2 separate regions of the Homo sapiens genome follow, and region 1 is linked to region 2. Evidence: fine-mapped QTL for protein levels in blood plasma. Region 2 holds a variant in brackets. A gene starts in the other region. All regions are shown on their forward strands. Region 1 holds the start of GPR37 (G protein-coupled receptor 37). Region 2 has its middle 130 kb from the start of MIR920.

Evidence for each region. PIP is the chance, under the fine-mapping model, that this variant and not a neighbour inherited with it causes the effect. Protein levels are from antibody-based Olink assays in UK Biobank. Linkage for the fine-mapping came from a reference panel and not from the study's own genotypes, which makes the PIPs less certain.
Region 1: GPR37 starts here. The variant in region 2 is fine-mapped to the plasma level of the GPR37 protein (UK Biobank, PIP above 0.99).

The regions. Positions count from the first base shown.
Region 1 is chr7:124,762,158-124,772,116 of GRCh38, forward strand. It overlaps GPR37 (G protein-coupled receptor 37), which reads right to left and starts at 3,635. Exons shown (of 2, transcript NM_005302.5): 1 at 1,797-3,635. The coding sequence starts at 2,819. RefSeq lists a silencer at 3,647-3,776.
Region 2 is chr12:24,080,597-24,090,555 of GRCh38, forward strand. It overlaps a transcript of SOX5 not described here. Among named protein-coding and RNA genes, the nearest start is that of MIR920, 130 kb to the right of the region's middle. RefSeq lists an enhancer at 354-2,104. The variant G/GATAATAAAACCA (reference allele first, on the strand shown) is at 4,496.

The DNA of each region.
Region 1 (9,959 bases), not on the chromosome of region 2:
GAAAAAGAAAATTAAAATAAGTACATAATAAATGCCATTGCTCAAAATGCTTATATCTCATTAAATTAACCAAAGTTTTTATAATCTTTCCTGAATTTGATATTCTTTTCTTTTAAGGTGTTCTTTCAAGAACTTTGGTGTTTTTATTTTTCTTTCCCCAATTTCCTTTTTCTGTCCTATTGTTTTTCCCTCTAGTGTATACAGATTTCTACATGTCCAGTACATTTCCAGTGAGATAAGCCAATACACTTCTCTGTCATTGAGGTACCTCTCTTGTCCGCTTTATACTTTTGTCTCTTTCTTGCATAAGTCAATTTCTTCTGATAAAAAAAAAAAAAGAAAAAAAGAAATTTGAAACTGACCTTGAAGAGGCAGTTTGGTAAATAGACACATATTCTCTAACATGAGTTCAACTGGCTCCTTCACAATTCAAAAATGAATTGTCTACCAAACAAAGTAGATGTTTCAGAGATACGCCAAGCTTGGCAACAGGAGAAATCATGGACGCTGCTAAAGCAGCAACAGCTGATTTCATAGTCATGGAATGATCCTGCACCTGATCCCTGTCAAGATAACAGAGGGTCTTATTTACTGTCTCCAGCTTTGGTCCGTCTAAGTAGGTACTGTTTTCTGTTTACTTATCCCCCAGCTTTAGGCCTGGAACAATGTTGAACATAGTGTCACAGGCCCTGGTGCCAGACAGGATCAGGGGCTGCGGAATATTTACAGTTTCCCTTCTTCTGCTTCCATAAATGAAATGGACAGTCTGAATGGAGAAAATCAAGGGCCAGCTGGCTAAAAACACAACTGGCAGCAAAACAGTTGGGCCCCTTCCAAGAGCTGGTGTTTAAAGAGAGGCCATTTAAAGAGCAAAGTCCACCTACCACAATAGTGGGCCAGGACACTAGCTGTAGGATGAAACAATGCAATTTCACTCAAAATGATTTTTGTTTCCAAAGTTTGGAAACTAGATGTGCCCCCTTCTTCCCAAGAAATTTTCTAGTCTTAGGGTCAATCCCTTAAAATAGCCAATCTTTCCACCCATAACAAATAACAAATGTATAACTTTGAGAATGTTAAACAAATTATGTGCCACGCTGGCCAAAGTCTTATTTTTGCTTAAGTTCACGCAAACACACAAAAATAAAATTAAGAAACCGAGATGGGAAAAGACAGGAACAAAAAATGACTTAAGAATTTAGATGGGATAGCATGGAAGACAGTCAGACACTTAAACTAATTTGAGAGGTTATTAATATATCATGAGGCCAACTGACAAACACAATTTTCTTTCTTTCTTTCTTTCAATAAAATGTTACTCCAACTTTGCTGTTTAAGAAAAAATGCAATAATCTTCTTGGGGGAAAACTCACATTGAAGCACTTGGTAACTAGTACACAAATGCTAATGTTTTTTTTTTTTTCCTTGTAGGCTCTGATGATGACAACCTTAGGCTGGCCATTTACTTAACCCTAAAATCTCTGACAAGTGCCAAATCAGAAATACGCATAACACCATATTCAGGGAGATAGATTTATACTCCAAACAATTCTGTATATTGTGAGATCATCCTTTTTTTACAGCCCAGGAGCAGATGAATTTGAAGGTGATTTCGCGAAGCTGCCTCTTTTTGTATATACATACATGCATAAATGATTGGAAAGAGAAATGAAAGAGGGCCCCAGATAAAAAGGAAAGGCGTTCAGCTAGATAGGTGCATCCAGCAGCAGTTCTCTGATGCTATAATCCCGAAAACAGATAAAGCCACTAGCTTGAGAGCCCCTGGAAGGCATTACCTCTATATAGGGCACGATCTTGCAGGAGAAGTCCTCCAGCAGCCACTTCTTGGTCAGCTCGTGGAAGATGACCAGCGGAAGGCAGAAGAAGATGATGAGAAAGTCCCAGAAGGCCAGGTTGGCCAAGAGGGAGTTGGAGATGCTCCGCATGTAGTAGTTGTGGCACACGATGCACATCACCGCCAGGTTGCCAATGATGCCGGTCCCGAAGATCACCACGGACAGACACATGACCGCGTAGGCTCCATAGGACTCCTGGGTCAGCGGGTAGAAGGGGTTCTTCAGTCTCACACGCCGGTTCGTGCTGTTTCCCCGGCGGGGACCCCCAGGCTCATGGATTCCTTCACCCAAGGATCCATTCTGGGCCAGCGCCCGGCCCGGGAGTGCAATTGTCCACCCTTCGTGCCCCGCCAGTCCATTGGCCGTCTTGGACAGGGGCTTGTGGTGGGAACCCTGGAGTTTCCCGGCTCTCCTTGGCCAGTAAAAAAGATCGCTGGCTCCGGGGACTGTCTTCACACTCTGCTCCTGGCTACGCCCGGAAATGCCAGCGCCTCTGGGACCCTTCTCTTCCTCCTCTGAGATCTGAAGGAAGAGCTGGAGGGCCGTGGGGTTCCCTCTCCCCAAAGTTTCAGAAGGCTCCTGACCCCGAGCACCTTTCCACCTCCAGGGGCCAGGTGGCCTGGTTGGAGGTCCCGGGGGTCCGGCTGCCGACGCCTCCGCCCCTCTGCCTGCAGCCGGGTCACGGCCCGGGGCCGCCGGCAGGTCCCAGGAGGGTCCCGCAAGAAACGCTGCCCCCTGCTCCTCCCTGGGTGCTCGGGCTCGCAGAACGTCTCTTGCAGAATTTCCCGGTCCCCAGGCGTCCCTGCCGCGGCGCTGGATCACTGTAGGTGCACAGCTCTCCCCCAGACAAGTTTCGTTTCTGGACGCAGGGGCGACCCCGAGGGCAGAAGAGGCAGACACCTTGAGCAGTAGCAGAAGCAGTAGCCGCGACATGCGGGCGAGAAGCGCGCCCGGGGCTCGCATGGCTTGGTGAGGGCACACCCGGCAGCCGCAGCTCCTGCTTAGTTAGGATCGACACCTGCTGCCGAAGTTGCTGCTGAGAGTTAGGCACATGTCACATACTCACCCCCGCCCGGGTAGCGGGGAACCGGAGATTAGGGTGATAGCGGAAGATCGGTCTTGGGGGTCACACACACGCCCCCTATAATCCTTCCTCCTTTGGCATCTTGTGCATTTCTCAGCCAAGTTGAGTCCCAGCAAGGTATGCCCTCCAAGGTTCCTAGAGGGAATAGGCTACTCCCGGTGGCTGACCTTGAAAAGTTGCAATCAACACCTGACTGTTGATTACTGTTGAGACTCGGGGGAGCCCAGACGAAGCCCCACACTCCTCACTGCCTTTGGGTGGGGGTGGTGGCCTTCTTGGTAACAGTTGCTCTGCCTATTTACATCCTTTCGACAGCGTTTGATCCAGTTGCAAGCCGAGGTCTCTAGAGGAAAAGAAAAACAAGTCCCCCTCCCCCAGACGACTCGCAGTCACAACCCCGCTCCCAGCTCGCTGGAAACACGTTGCAAACAGTCCGAAGCAGCGCTGATGCGCCGGCGAAACTCTTGCCCCACCTAACCCCAGCGACTTGCGAGCCTACTGCTGCCGAGGAGAAGCGGGATTCCAACCCCGCGGCCACTGCCAAAGTTGCTTCTCCTCCAGCTCAAAGTTGACGACGGGGCGAAGCAGGCTGCTGGACGGCGTGCCGCCGCAGAGAAGGAAATCGTGGGGAGAAGGGGGAGAAGAGGGCGCCGCTCGTCGGTGGACAGTGCCGCTAGCCGCGGGAGCTAGTCACTGCCACAGCGGGCTCAGCCCGGACGGGAAGGGTGGTGCCTGGAACCGCCGCGGGCCAGGCAGTGCGCGGCCGGGAAGGGGAGGTGGCCCGGCCTCGCCCCCGCGCTCCAGCCGCTGCGCGCGCCCGCGAAGCTCGACTCTCGGCTCGTTGCCTCCTCCCACTCCTTCGCCTCCTCCTCGGAGAGATACTGGTTTGTGGGGAGACGGGATCCCCTGGTGGTTCACCACTCACTAAACCCACACACGTTTCATTCAAGCCATTTGTAGCGGCTTCCACTCGGAGGAGCTGGGAGGGAACAAGGGCGGAGGCGCGGAGCCTGCGCGGCTCGAGGCTAGGGATGGGCGGGACAGGTTAATTCCCCAGCTGTCGAAACCAGCCTGACAGGTCCCCGAGCCCGGGCTAGGGGCGGGTGCGGGGCGGGAGTGGGGGGTGGGGGTGGGAACGGGAATATGAGAGCGGTCGGGGGAGGGAAGAGAGGAGGGTAGCAGGGGAGTGAGCAGCAGGGTCCCCTCCAATCTGTTGCGGCTGATGCGCATGCCCAGGTCTCAGCTCTGGGGGGCGAGGGGCGGGGCGGGGGAGGGGCGGACGGGGGTTGGGCCGCGGGGAGTAAGAAGGTGAAACCTCACCTCCTCAGGTATTCCCTAGAGATAGGAGAGAATGGGAGCTCAGAGGTGTCAGTCATAGAGAATTACCAGTTCCAGGATTGAGATGCAGAGCGAGAAAGCTCAGGATGCACCATTACCTTTAACACTGAGTTGGGAAGCATCCTACCATGGGTTACTTCGTACCACCCAGAGCATAGTGAGGTAGTTGTATTTGATGAAGTAGTGGGAAATGACTGGAGGCAGAAAATTACTCGAACAGCACTCCCAGCACGGCTGTCCATGCCTTTCCAACCTTTCTACTATATCCCACAACCCTGTCAAAACTGTCAGGGCATAGCTAATAAAATAGACAAATTAATGAAGAGAAAATGATAGAGGAAGAAATAAACACATTCTGAATTTTTTTTTTAAACAGAGTCTTGCTGTGTCGCCCAGGCTGGAGTGCAGTGGTGCGATCTCGACTCACTGCAACCTCCGCCTCCCCGGGTTCAAGCGATTCTCCTGCCTCAGCCTCCCAAGTAGCTGAGACTACAGGCACCCGCCACCATGCCCGGCTAATTTTTTTTGTATTTTTAGCAGAGACGGGGTTTCACTATGTTGGCCAGGCTGGTCTTGAGCTCCTGACCTCGTGATCCGCCCGCCTCGGCCTCCCAAAGCGCTGGCATTACAGGCGTGAGCCATCACACCCGGCCTGAATTTTTTTAAAGCAACACATCTAGAGAGGCAGGAGAAAACACAATGGAACATATGATACCAATTGTGGTAAATAGAATAATGCCCCCCCAAAAAAATGTCCGAATCCTAATTCCTAATACCTGTGAGTATGTTACCTTACAGAGCAAAAGGGATTTTGCCAATGCAATTCAGCTAAGACTCTTGAGATGGGGAGAGTATCGTGATTATCCAGGTGGGTACACTATAATCACAAGAGCCCTTACAAATGAGAGGCAGGAGGGTCAGAGTAAAAACAAACACAAGCCAAGTGATGTGGGCAATCTCTGGAAGCTAGAATGGGCATAAAAAAGGATCTACTAGCCCATTTGAGACTTCTGACCTCCATAACTGTAAGATAATGAATGTGTGTTGTTTTAAGCCACAAAATTTATGGTTATTTGTTGCAGTAGCAATAGTAAACTAATACACCATTAAATCTAAAAATGGAGACAACAGGAATAATTGTATAGAAAAACATAAACTACCAAAAATAGTTCAAGAAGAAAATTTTCAGAAACTGTAATCGAACTATAACATTAAAGAAATCAAATCATTCATCAAGATCTACCCAGAGGAAAGTGCTAGACCTTAGCATATCCTGCGGAATAAATATACATTTATACAAAATGTTTTAAAGCTACTCAGTTCATTTTGTGAAGGCAGAATAACCTTAATGTCAAAATCAGACAAAGCCAGAAATAGGAAAAAATATAAGCTAATAGCACACATTCATTTGTACATTAATTCATTCATTTATATACACTAACTCATTCTCTCAAATTCACTACTTCATTAAAGAAATATTCTGCTCAAGTTACTTAGGTCAGAGCAGTGAATAAAATAAAGTTCTGCTCTCACTGAATTTATATTTTCTTGTATACTCATAAAAAGGACAAACTAGGCTTATGTGTATCACCAAGACTGAATCTCAGAAACATAAATGTAAGGGAAAAACGTAGAACTTGATGTGTTAACTATATAATGCTACCATTTGTGTAGCTCTTAAAATGCACATAAAACAATTTGATAATCATACATGGTGTATCATATAAAATATGTGAATGGAATAAATACAGATCAACTTCAGAATATTAGTCACCTCAGGAAATAGAAGAATGGTCATGGGATGGAAGGAAGCTTCTACTCTAACTGTAGTATCTTGTTTCTTTAAAAAAAATTTAGAAGAGGGAAATCTGGATTAATAATGAAACAGGAAAAATAAGTTGCCAAAATGAAACAGTGATATAGCTTCCCTTCTCATCTCATTAGCTTAGAGTTTAAGTTACACATGTAAGATATGTTTCTATCCTTTTTACTCTAGACCACATAAATGTGTCACTAATCTCTATCACTACACAGAAAGGAATCAAAGCTAAACAGGGAAAAATCCCTTTACCTGCTCCCTTAGAAGCTCCATTGTAATTCACACATGCTTGGCCCAGAGTTGGGCATCATTCTTAAAGTGGTGGGCTATAGAACTCAGGTACCATGCTTGGAGAGTGGCTGGGGAAAGGCCTGAAGGAGGAGCTACCTGTGTTTGTCTGTGGTGGTATCTCATTCATGAGTGGTCCCTTCCTTAACCTGAACAATGATGCCTACCTACTTGGATGGTTGCCAAGTTCTGGTTCTCTAACTTATTCGGACCATGAATAAAACCAAAGAGCTCCAGCTACTCTATTGGAGCCCAGGTCAATATCAATTATTTATAAAATTGTGTTTCCAAAAATATCAATTATTTATATTTTTGGAAACACAATTTTCTCATCTGTATAATAAGGATACTAATACCTACTCTCAGCTCTGCTCACCCAAGTTGTTATGTGGATTAGGTAGATATGAAAAGACTACATAAAGTATAAAATATTTATTACTGTTGCTCTTGGTAGTTCAACTTTGTTTTTAGTGAAATTTAAATGCTGTCAAAAACACATAATCCTTGAAAAAGAATATGCTTGGTAAATAAAAGTGTAAAGTAATAGGTTTATAAGAAAATTTAGAATGCATTCCCTGCAAAAAGAAAAACACACATCTTCAAATATTTTTCCAAAGCTTAGCTCAGCTGTAACTATAAATTTTAAATGGAAATAGTCACATCTCATTCATTTGTGTAGATTCTACTTTAGAAATATAGATCAGAAAAGGAATTAGCTAATCATTGTCTGGTTTACATCTGAGGCCATTTATCTGTACAAAGAAAACTGATTTGAACATGGATTTTTTTTCCTGTGTCAGCATTTCACAAGGTTTATAATACATACTATTGATTTTTTTAATAAAAAAAGAACATGTAAATTATTACCTGCCTTGGCATTTTTATAAAATCTATTACACTTCATTTGGTGTTTGGTGTGCTGAAATAACACACATCACAGAATGAGAGAAATTACTATTTCAAGTTTTAAGATACATCGTTGAACAGAAGCTTTACCCAGCACACAATTCACTTATCAAATAATTTTCTTTCTTTTTTGCCTCAGATAATTCAAAAGGGTCATTTTTTCTGAAAGAAACTGTAACATACCACCAATAGATTATTATTTTCTGAAATTCAAAATTTGTCTGTTTTCCAAATAGTTTGTGGTTGCAGCCTTTCTGTCACTGAATTATTAATTGTTAGTTTGGAAGCCTCCATTGATCACCTTCATTAATCACCTCTCTCTTTTGCCATATATAAGAGCCAAATTATCATTAACGGGTGGGAAATGGCACTGCTTGGAATATAATATCAATATGGTTATGTCTACCTTAAAAATCAAATATCAAAATTAAAGTACTTAAAATTTAAAATAAAACAACAATAATCAAAATAGTCTTTTATTTATTCCAGACAAAAATGTAGACATTGGGCTACATAAAATATGTTTGAACCATACTTGGACCAGCACACTAATTGCATAGCCAAGTCCTTTGGGTTTTGTTGGATTCGGTTTGTTGTTGTTGTTGTTGTTGTTTGTAAAGAAACTTGAATGCAAAAGGGTGAAACTGAAGATGAATTAACACAAGCATAACCAAACATTCTCAACCTTTCATAATTCTTTATAGAAATAAATGCTTGTGAAATGCACCCCTACCTTTTGATCAACATCCTTTTTGAAGCAAAGATAATTTGGATACTTAGTTGGCCCTCAGCCAATAGCAATGTAGCAGGAGATCAGACCATCTCAGGCTTCAGCCTCTCATGACTTCTCAAATTGTGTATTTTCCCTAGCAAGCACATTAATTGTAAATCTTCCAAAAATCATAGTAAGCTGAACTTTTTAACAATTATCCAAAATAAATGTGATATAAAGATACATTTTATTGTATCTTTATAATACCAAAATAAATGTGATATAAAGATATACCAAAATAAATGTGATATAAAGATACATTTTACTTCCTTCTCCCAGAATTTGGGTACAAGCTGTATGCTATATCAATAAGATTCCTTCTGAGACTGTTTAAACCAAATCATCTTATTCTATATTGTTGCTCCATCTCTGACCAAGCATTATTATTTAAATTAGTTTTCTGTGTAATGTTGATACTGGATAATACACTAGAATAAATGCAAGTCAAGCCAAATTGCAGAAGTGTCAGCCTGGTTCAAATAACAAAGGCTAGCAAATTGGAATTTTTAGTATTCTGACCAGAATAATTTTTGTATACAGAGTCAGTAAGGAAGAGCATGGATTTCTATATGAAAAGTGAAAAGTTGAGATAGAAGGGATTTTAAAAGATAATACACCATTGATTTGGCTCTCCTGGCAACCTATTAAATTTTAGCTCTGGCAAAGAAATCAATTCAATGAACACGTACGTCTAAGACCTGAGTCTTGGCACATTTAGCATTATTTTCCTGATTAGTGGTTGAAATATAAATAGTACCAAAACAATATCTGCTTTGTGAGAGTTATAAAACTACCCTAAAGACTGGTCAAAAACAACAACAAATAGCTTTTCTAGTATAATCTTCCTGATTTGCTTGTTCACTTTTTAGAATCTTCTGCAGGTGATATTTTCTTTATTTGGATTGAGGTCCAGAAAGAAAGAAAAAAGTATCTCTGTGTTATATTTAGTTTTTTTAATTCACTCAGGATGTTGAGAGGGTGTGACTCAGTATTATCACAACAAATTGACCTGATAATGTAGACATTTTGAATGATCAACTTAATAGAATTTTAAGATTTGGCCCAAGGTTATGAAATTTGGATTGCCTGACATGACTAGTTTCTAGTGTTTGCATTGTCTTCCAAGGCCCCAGCTGGTCCATGGAATGCTTTTTCAAAGCTAGTTTCCTGCTTATTTCTTCATGAACTCAATATCCTTCCCTGAGCATCCCTGAGCACCAAAACAAAACTTTAGTTTTGAGTTTTAGACAGCAAGGAAACTGATTATCTCCTCTTGTGTTAAAGAGACTACACACATGTGATAACATGACTAAAGATCTTTGTGGTGGTCCAAAAGAAGCACCTCCTAGTGACTGCGAAATGTTCACAAGGGTGGTGTCTTTGGGGCCTTGTAGTATGTGGGCAGCGTCCCTTCTAAGATTTCAAGATGCTTTTCAGCTCACTAAAGAAAAGACACATTTGATCTCTGATAAGATTTTAATCAATGTAAATATTGGACTTCATAAAAGAATTGTACTTATAAGAGAATTTGACTGCTAAAAAACAATTAAAAGTCAATCATACAGTACTCCCCATTCCTTTCAGAAATAAGGAAACTGAGACCAAAGTGGGTGAGATTATTTGCCCTACATCATGTAGTGTAATAGAAATAGAACTTGGACTGAAAACCAAGGTTTTTGAGAGTGAAGGAAAGGGGCAAACCAGTCAGGAATTCTGAGAGGCTTCCTGAAGGAGGTGAATGGAGTAAGATACTGAAGTGAGTGGACAAAGAATCCATGTTGCAACAGAGTGACTGGCATCAGCAGACTGGGAGAAGAGAAAAAGGATGGTGTGTATGGAACTACAAGCAGTTCAGTGCTGCTAGGAACAATGGCTGATACTTTTTGTTCTTAAACA
Region 2 (9,959 bases):
AGGACTATGGACTGTGTGTTGAAACTTCCAATGTTTGAAGATCTGCTTCTTTGCCCTCTGAACTGTAAGTCACTTTGGTTCCAAAATATTGTTTGCTGCATTCTGATTGATCTGTGTGTTTTTGCATCTTCCCCAGGATTCTACAGCTATGGCACATTGCTTAAACCATGCAGAGTGAGCACAAATATTTGATAAGCAAAGCTGAATTTTTAAAAAGTCTTTTAGGGGGAAGAAATGGCATTGTAGCTACTGTATGATTTTAATACATCTCATTGGAATGGCTAAGTTAAAAAACAACAACAACAATGAAGATTGCCAAAAAAGTAAACAAAAAACAAACTTTAAGGACAAATTCCATGTACTTGCACTTATGTGAGTTAGAATTATTTTAGCCTGCTCTCTGTAATTATTAGCAGTAATACGCTTATTAACTTGTGAATTTAATACATATGGCATCAGTGTAAAATCCAATGATGATATCAAGAGAAATCACAAAATGATCGTTTTCTCTCTTTATCCTAAGCTGAGCAAGGAACCTTTCCAAACAGTGTGAACTCATTGGCTTCCCCATAACTCTACAGAGCTCGCGCTGCCATATAACTGGGAATCAGAGAGGTGAGGTCATTTCATCACTCCTTGCAAAAAAATGCAAAACGTCTGCTAAAATCTGACTTCATTTGATTTACTCTCCAAGACTGTTTTTTATTAAATATGTTTGACTGCTATCTCTAATTAAATGTAGAATTAATTTTGGCAAACTAACCACAGATGCAGTTTATGTTCAATTTTATCAGACAGATTTATTTATAAGCTGTCAACTTCTTGAAAGACTTCATTTTGGAGCAGTTTTAAATTGCTAACAGTAGCTGTAAATGGAGCTACTGTTCTCTGGAACACTAAAGGAAAAGTATGCTATAAATGTCCATTCCATCTGTGAGGAATCATAAAACAATCACATTCCTTTATTTTTTTTCCTCCGTAGGACCTTTATTAAATTAGTTCAACTCAATTAAAAATAACTTCAAAAACATTTCAGAGCCTTTTGTTTCATGGAATACTTGGAACTCTCTGCACGGAACGTCACCCTTTTAACTAATCCCTTTTACTAAATGGAGGAGAATAGTGGTATTGTGACTTCAGACAGTGCTTTCAAGGGTCTCTACTGTACCGAATTGAGGTCACTGCAAGACAATGCTCAACACCCAATAGCCATTCAAACGTTCTTCACAACTCTATCAAACGTGTCTTTCTTTCTCTCACCCGCTTTCTCTCATGGCAAACTCAGAGGACAATGGAAAAAGCCTCCAGCACCATTTATGGTCACCATATTTGCACATGACAAAATCTATTCTTCCTGGTTTGCCAACTCCCTGTAAAAAGAATGAACCCTGGGATAGATTTTCCCACCGTTACTGTTATTCAAACTTACTTTGTATTTAATTTTGTTGTTGTTGTTGTTAGAGGGCTGATGCATGGCATTTGAGAAGCTGACTTGCTATTTTCGAGCATGTGTAACAAAGCAGAGACTAAATGCAGAATTAAATATGTCACATTATAGCCAGCATATGCATGACGGAGCGTACAACTCAGGACAAAGCAGAGACAAATGATGGGACTGGAACTATTATACCTTGTCTTATTGTTTAGTGTTATCAGTATTATAAAACTCACTGTTTCCCTGTGAACCACCATGTCTGTGCCCCACAAGCACTATTTAGTTTTGCCTGGGAGTTTTTATGGCTGCAGCCACAAACAAACAAAATCAATTGCTGTAAATTTCTCTCACCAGGGCTGCTCCTTTCGAAAAGAAAAAAAAAAAAAAAAAAAAAAAAAAAAAAGATGTATCCAGAGCCTCATCCTCCAAACAAACAAGAAAGAACACATATTTGCAAGCTATATAGTAAAGTTGTTACAATTAAGATTTTGATTTTAATTAAGAATGGGATTTGTAGGACAATTAGTGAGATGTAATATTCTTTGCAAGAAACGGTGCCCTTATTGGAAATACCATATAAAATGGAATTGGGGGCATTTGGAGCTGCACAGAGACTTGTTTCTATGGATTTCTACAGATAATGAGAAGAAAAATACCAGCAAAATGTAGATAACTCACCTGAAATGCAGAAATATTAATACTGTTTGATCTTTTTTTTTCTTAGTTTTTTCTTCTCTTTAATTCAGGTCATAGTTATCTTTGCTGTTGAGATTTTAGTCAGGTGTCCTCTTACTATTAATATACTTTATAAATTCTTCATTTATTCTAAACCACTAATTATTAGAAGTATACCTCATCTCATTTGCTTTTATAAAGATTTAATTACACAAAGATATAATGATAGATTTAACGATAATAATGGCAACAAACTTCTCAGTTATGTTGGTCACGCTTAGCTGCCCTAACATTACAAAGAGGACTCTTTCTATTATTCTGTCATGTTAAAGAACAGAATTTGTGTAATTCCTTAAATGTTAGAATAACCTTTCCTTGACAGCATATAGATTTTCATGTGTTATGAAAACTAAAAATGCATTCCCTAATCAAACGGCTGATAATTTTTCAAGTGTATTCAATTTGTTATACAATACAATTTTTATTTCTCCTCTTCACCATAAGATTAAGCCTTAGTAAGCAAATTAAAGGACCTCCTTCCCTGAACACATGAAAAAATTGTAATAGTGACTATTTCATCAGTTATTATGCCGTGAATTACAAAGACCAAATATATATAATCACACATACAAGATTTAAAACATGTACTGAGCACCAACTTTCTGCAACATTTATTCTACAGTATTTTCTAAGCATATGCTATCTGCCAGGCATTGTACCAAGCCATGCTACAGTACAATACACATTGTAGATGCCTTAATGCAGTTTATAATCGGCTGGGAAAACATACAATTAAACATTTGTAATCACTCACTGTGAAGCACTGTAGGTGCAGAAATAGGTATAACGTTTTTTTCTCAGTTTAGAAGTCAAAAGGGGAACTTCCCCAGAACTATGGGAGGCATCCTGAGTGTAACTTACCACAGTTATTGAGTAGCCATCTGAAAAGCATCGTGCTAAATTTATTAGGATTGAAAGGTGAAAAACTTAGAATATAGCTATAGCTGGGGTTTGGGAAAGAGTAGAGGAGAAGCAAGAAGGAATAAAATGTAAAAACACAAGGAAACAGTAATATGTCTGGATCATAATGAGGAATAATTAGTGGCCCACTTTATTTCTAATGAGGCTATTTATATGGAATTAGGGCAAAATAGGTCTGGAAATCTAGGCTGGAGCCATAGAGTACTTGCTGGTCCTTAAGTGCTACCCTTAAGTACAGCTGACTCGTGTGGGACGAGATAGAGAACTAGAAAAACAAATTCCAAGGCTTCTTCAGGATCTCACCGGAGAAGGAATGAGAGTCTGGTGTTTCTGCAGTGCAAGAGGAAAGGAGGAAAGGCACTGAGGAGATAAAAAATCTGTATGATTTGGAAACCACAGATATGGTGGGCAAAAGAGGAAGTAAGTCAACATGATCTGAACAGGTTTACATTAGTCTGGATGTATCTATAAGGTTGAACTATGTGAAACTGCCAATCTAAAATATCCAGGTGATATTTGATCAGAGGCAGTGGAGAAAGAAGAGCAGTCCAAGGGGATAAATTCAGTTTGTGTCTAGATTCAGGAAGCAGAAGGGTGAAGTGGAGTCAGTAAAATGGTTAAGTGAAACAGTCTACTGTAGAGATGGGATTCTGACTTAATTTCCTTAATATCACAGAAAAACATGGGAGAGCTCCTGACTTTTATCTCCAGTGTTAGCTTCAAAATAGATTTCATATCTTGAGTATCTCTCCAAAACCTAAGATTCCTGATTCTTTATTTTGCTCCTTCATTATCCTTTAATTAAATCCCTTATGTGTGATATTCTTTAAAATGAAATCTTAGTTTAAAAATAGTCCTCTATACATTTCATTTCAGAATCCATTATGTCAAGGGAAAATATTGGAAGTAAAATATGAACATGGCACATTTCAACAATTCAAACGTCCACTACCAGTTACAATAACTTTGCTCTTGTTATCAGCTGTCAGCATTAGTTTCAAAAGTGGTGCTCCTCATGCAGTTTCTAATCATCTTCTCCCTCCCATTTTATTCTAGAACTCCAGTGTAAACCCAAAAGGCATAAACTGCCTTTTAATAGTTGTTCTGTTATGCATAGCCCTAACCTATCACTACATGTTTTACATTAATACTACAAATGATACATCTTAACTATAGTTATCTTTTTACTAATTGATAAGCTTTATATAATAACAATGATGCTAACAGAAACCTTTAAGTGATTATATTTATATAAATCACTTGGCTATCTGCCTTTTTCACTTTCTAACTACCTTGTGGAAGAAGTGTTGTTAACATCATACTCTCACAATGATTATGTGAGACACAGGCTGACTTCAAAACCACAAGGACTACCTGAAAAAAGAGGGCGCATGTTCTTAGCAT[G/GATAATAAAACCA]GCTGACGTATACAGCCACCACTATCCTACTGGATTCCTCTGTTCAAATTAAAAAGATACTTTCTTTTGCCTGACCTTGCCCAGCAAGCAAGAGCATGGCCAGGAAGAGGGGCAACAGATGCCTTTCAGCCTGTTCACCCTGAATTCATCCCCTCAATGGAATACCTTTGGGCCATCTGAAAACTACACAATGTAATGTGGGCTCATGCCAGGGACTCTGCTATATGTGCCCCAGATACACTATCTCAGTTCATTCTCACCATGGCTCTATGAGTTGGATACAACTTTGTGCCCACTTTACAGAGGTCAACTAACTTGCCCACAGTCATAGCTAGTCAGGGGAAACATCAAAGTTGTCAGATGGCAGCGTGACCTCAGAGCCCTCATTCTTAGCTTCAACAAATTATTGGAAGTATCATTATGTTAAACCAGGACTTTATTTCATATATTTACATAATTATATTTTGTTAATTATTTGGCTATAATATATACGTGTGCTAATAGTTAAGGGCTAAGTCCCACATACACCTTAGAAACTACTATTTTCTTATGTAATTACTTCCTAATAAATGGGAGAGAGGGAGATCTAGAAAGATGTCTCACCAACGTAATTCTTATAACAAAATGAAATTTGTTATATTTGAAAGAAGAAAAGTTCTTCATTTTGGAAAGAAAAAAAATCTTGTCATTGACAAAGAAGAAAAACTAATATTAAGTTTGGGTAAAGAAATTAACTGTGAAAATATCCCTCCCTCTGACACCCTCCTCAAATAAAAGCTTACACAGCACACATAAATTGGTAAAACAATCCCCACAGGTAAGATAAACATCATAAGTTGTCCACACAGACAAGAACGGATATGCTAAAAAAAAAAAAAAAGTATTTGAAATTACACTACAAATATTTTACTTGGTAGTAAAATACTTAAAGTATTTCTCAGCTCAGACTACTTTTGCCAAATCAGAAGTTTTCTTTTGCGTGGTTAAGAAAGCCAAGAGTATTCAAAATATTTTTTAAACGGTTCTACCTATGATTCCCTCTGTTTCCAGTGGAAGCATTGGCAAACACAATTTGGCTGTTAAGGGAGGGGAAAATGCAGTACATTTTTTTTTTCATTGTCAAAATATACTCTTAGTTAAGAAACCCCTAGTTGGAAATAATTGAAAATCTGTGAAGTATAATAAGTACCTACCCAGACTACATAGACTCTCAGAATTTGTTTCTCCTAAGACATGATTACAGAATCAACTCAGGACACAATGCTAAATTCCTACAGTGCTTGTAAAAACTGCCACAGAAACAGCAAATCTATTTGCTAGTTTTTAAAGTAATCTTACATTACTTGAATGTAATGTCATGTAAAATTCTATATAGAATTTTGTAAATAATGAGGGGCAGGGGGAGAGGGAGAGAATGAGAAAGAGTAAACTGTCATGTTTTAAGAAAAACTAGTTTAAAAATACACTCATGAAGCTAGTCAGAAGAAGAACATTTCAGAAATGATTCTCCTGGTACTGATATTTCACCTACAAACCCAATCTTTTGTTTGTACTATATTATTACTTACTTGTTCACTTCTAGTAACTATATTCTTTCTATGGAGTTTGAGTGGTCTGAAGGCCCAGGAGACAGTCAAAACATTCAGCAAAACAGTTAAGCTCTTCTATTTTCTTTCTTTACATTAGTCGTTACATATAAACCCACTAAGGTTAGGAAGAATCTCCAAGCTCAAAGAAAATGTAACTGTGAGACACAAAAACACAGTCAAATATTCAAGGTTTAGAATATTATGTTCATTTACTCGAATAATCTTTAAATTTGTCACAAGTGGTATTTCAACAATAGTTCGGAATGTACCAATCAAAAAGAGGGTTCTAAGATCATTAAACAAAAATGGCATACACATATCGTGTTTTCACAAAACTTAGAGTGACCTTTTTCTAAATTATTTAAATATATGTTTAATTAACTCAGTACTAAGGGCTCATGCATATGTTTCTACATGTTGGACACTGCCCAGACAGTTACAGTACAACCACATGCTTTAAGAATTATCAAGTGTGTGTTCTCTGTCTCTCTCTCTCTCTTTATATTTTAGAATTGCTTATCATTATAGAATGGTAATAATAATCCTAATTATTGTTCCAGGAATTGCCAAAATTTTATCATAATTTGAGTGAAATGCATAAGAAAAAAGGACACATTGACAAATTTTCAAATAGAGATGTAATATTTCATTTGTGACATCCACTGTTACACGTACATTCAAAGGAATAATAATAATTGATTATGTCTCTTACCTTTATTACTCGTCATCTCTTGCTTCTATTTTTACCTTGAGTGTTTATTAAAGTGTACAGAGTAAAACCAATAGGGTGCTTTGCCTACAAGTGTCAGGCAGATTTACTTGGTTACCAAGGTACAAAGGTCTACACGGGGAGGATGAGTTTATTTTATCTTTGACAAAATGATTAAAATGGCAGATAATATGCTTTTCATTTTGCTGAGAGCAAATACTTGAAAAGGAATTGTGAACGTGGTATATTGAGAATGCAATGACCTTCAAATTAAGGCATAACCCTGGCTTGTAAACTCTGAGATCATTTAATTTACTACTGTAGATATATGTTTACAATATGTAGAATATGCCTCTTTTCTAGGAGCAGATTGTTAAACATTTTTTTTTTGTATAGGAAATCTTCCTTTTAAAATATTGTTGGGGGTTAGTATTTTAAAATAAACCACTCTAAATATTCACATCCTCTATTTATATGAATAACAGGAAAAAATAAAAGCATCTCTTATTTCTCCCCCTTACTAATAGAACTAACAGGGTCTTGGGTGTAATGAAGGAAAGGCAGGCTCTTTAGCCCTCAACATTCTTCCAACTAGTGAGTTTCTAACGATATCTCAGAAATGGGCCAAAAAGCAGGAGGAAGCACTTGCATCCCCCAGGAAAGCTACAAGCAATGGGTAATAATCTCTGCTATTATATTTTAGAAATACTAAGAGAAAGTATAGATATGTCTTTTCATTAATCTCATCTTTAAAAAAAAATCAAGGATATGTCAACACAGGGTTACTGAATCAAAAACATATTGATTGATATTACATATTTTTCAGCATCAATTTAAGAGTAAACATAGATTTTAGGGAAAACTGATGCATTTTGAAGATAGGCTTTTCCTTACCCCTGTAATTATAAGCTCTGAATAAGCTGTCTTAGAATTGTCTATTGTTGGCATTTACATAGTGTAGCAAAAGTTTTTCATTTTAATAAGAACAGTCTACTATCAACTATTTTCACTACTAAAAGCTGCTTTAGTGAGGTTTGCATGGGCATTGACTTACCACAACTCTGCACACGCACCTTTTCAATCAATAAAAGATAATAAAATATTGATTGGTGAACAAGAGAAGCACCGAGAGAAAACACACATATGAATTTGATAACTTGAATCTAAGCAAATATTCTAGAGATCTGATATTAATGAAGATGTGACTTACTAGATGCGAAAGGGCTCATTTTAGTCTTTTCTTTTCTCTACTCACCCTTTAATCACTACCATTTCCGAGTATTTGTTGTTTCTACTTGAATATGGCTATAGATTATACTGAGAAGACATCATCTTATTTCTAAATCAATCATTCTTAAACTTTTCCAATTCAACACATTTGAGGAACATTATACAATCCTACTGATAACAGTGGATTATGGCAGTAAATTTTAATTAGGGGGATATTTTTCAAATGAGGAAAAGTATGATTTTAAAAGTGCCTTCTTCACTGGCCTTCTGAATCACATCCCATGGAAAGGTTATATCACATGGATGTGAATCATTGCCAATTTCTTTAAGAATGAAACAGGATATTCCACTATTGATGTTTATGCCTGAGACGCCTACAATAAAAGTGCTGATGACTCGTTAAAGAGAATTTAGATAACACCAGTTATATACTCCTGGTTGCAAATGAAAAATACTGGTTTCATCCAAAGTCGGTAATATCTCAATGTAAAAATACCCATACATTTTCAGAAGATAAAAATATTAGTGAAGTAGGAAGATAAGAGAAATATAATTTCTAGCTGATCAGTAATTCCTTATTTTAGTCCTTGCTTCTAACAAATTCCTCCATATATAGGAAAGAGCAGATTTTTCTGCTTCATCCTAAAAAACAAAGAACGATTGCTACTCCCTTCCCCCCAGTTTCTATATACAGTCACTAAGATCCATCTGCATTACAGTCGTCATTACAAATGATAGCTTTGCCAAATCTAGTCCCACAAATTGATATATTGGAAAAACTGGCATGAATATTTTAATGCCCTGCCATTCTAAAGAATAAGCTTTAGGCTTTATATTTATACATGAATATTAGGAATGTATACATGACTATACATGCATGTCTTTATACATTCAGGAACAGAACATATAATCAAATAGAAAAATTAAATGTTTGTTAAATTATTTTTATAATTAACTACAGAGCTATATTGTCATCTTTGATAAATGTGGGAAATTGAGGCACAGAAGTACCCTCTAGGTGATAACCAAACAGCATATGACAAAGAGCAGAAAGACTGGTAAAACGCCCAGGCCTTATGTGCTTTCCTCTCTGGTCTAAACACCAGATTGCCATAGAGATTCCTATAAGGAATTCTTTAAGATGAGACCTGAATAGTTAAAGTAAATGAAAGATGCATTCTGAATATGGGAACTCTCAGCTATTATATTCCCTTCTTCATTTCTGGATGGTTCGTTAGCCCTCCACAAGTGTTTGGTACAATAAAGGAGCTACAAAGTGGTTCTAATGACTTTTCCAATTATTACACTTATCTCTGTTATATAGGAAATGGAAAGCAGCATGTAGGTATTTTTTTCCTTTATTCAAGGAATCAATACGTAAGACCACGTAAAACAACTTAAGAATGAACCAGTATTCTTAAAATAAGACATTTTAATGACTAAATATTTTAGATGTTTAACAGCATTGTAACATTTCATTTAAAATGTCTAGAAATCCCCAGAATATGGAGACTACCCCATTTTTAAAAACTGCATTTTTATTAAAAGCCTATTAAAATATTGTCCTTCTCTTTTCATTTACTTAGATCTTGAAATGAAAAACAACAAATCTATAGTTTACAAGTGCCCTTTCCAAATCCTTACCTTCAAAATCAGTGAAAGTTATAATTTATCTCACTTTGGAATGATAGTTGGCTAACGAAAGGGAAGCATAAACTCACATTCACTTACATTTCTATGTGACCACTGAGAACGCTTGTAGAATTATAAAGTGCTCTTTCTTACTGTTTGGTCAAAGACCACTGACTAAATCATCCCAAGAGCTCAAAGAGACATATGTAATGCCAGTAAGTGAGACGACAAAATTATATATTAGTACAATTCCATGAAAAGAAAATATTTAAAAGTGAGAAAATTACTGTACAGTCAAAGGAGC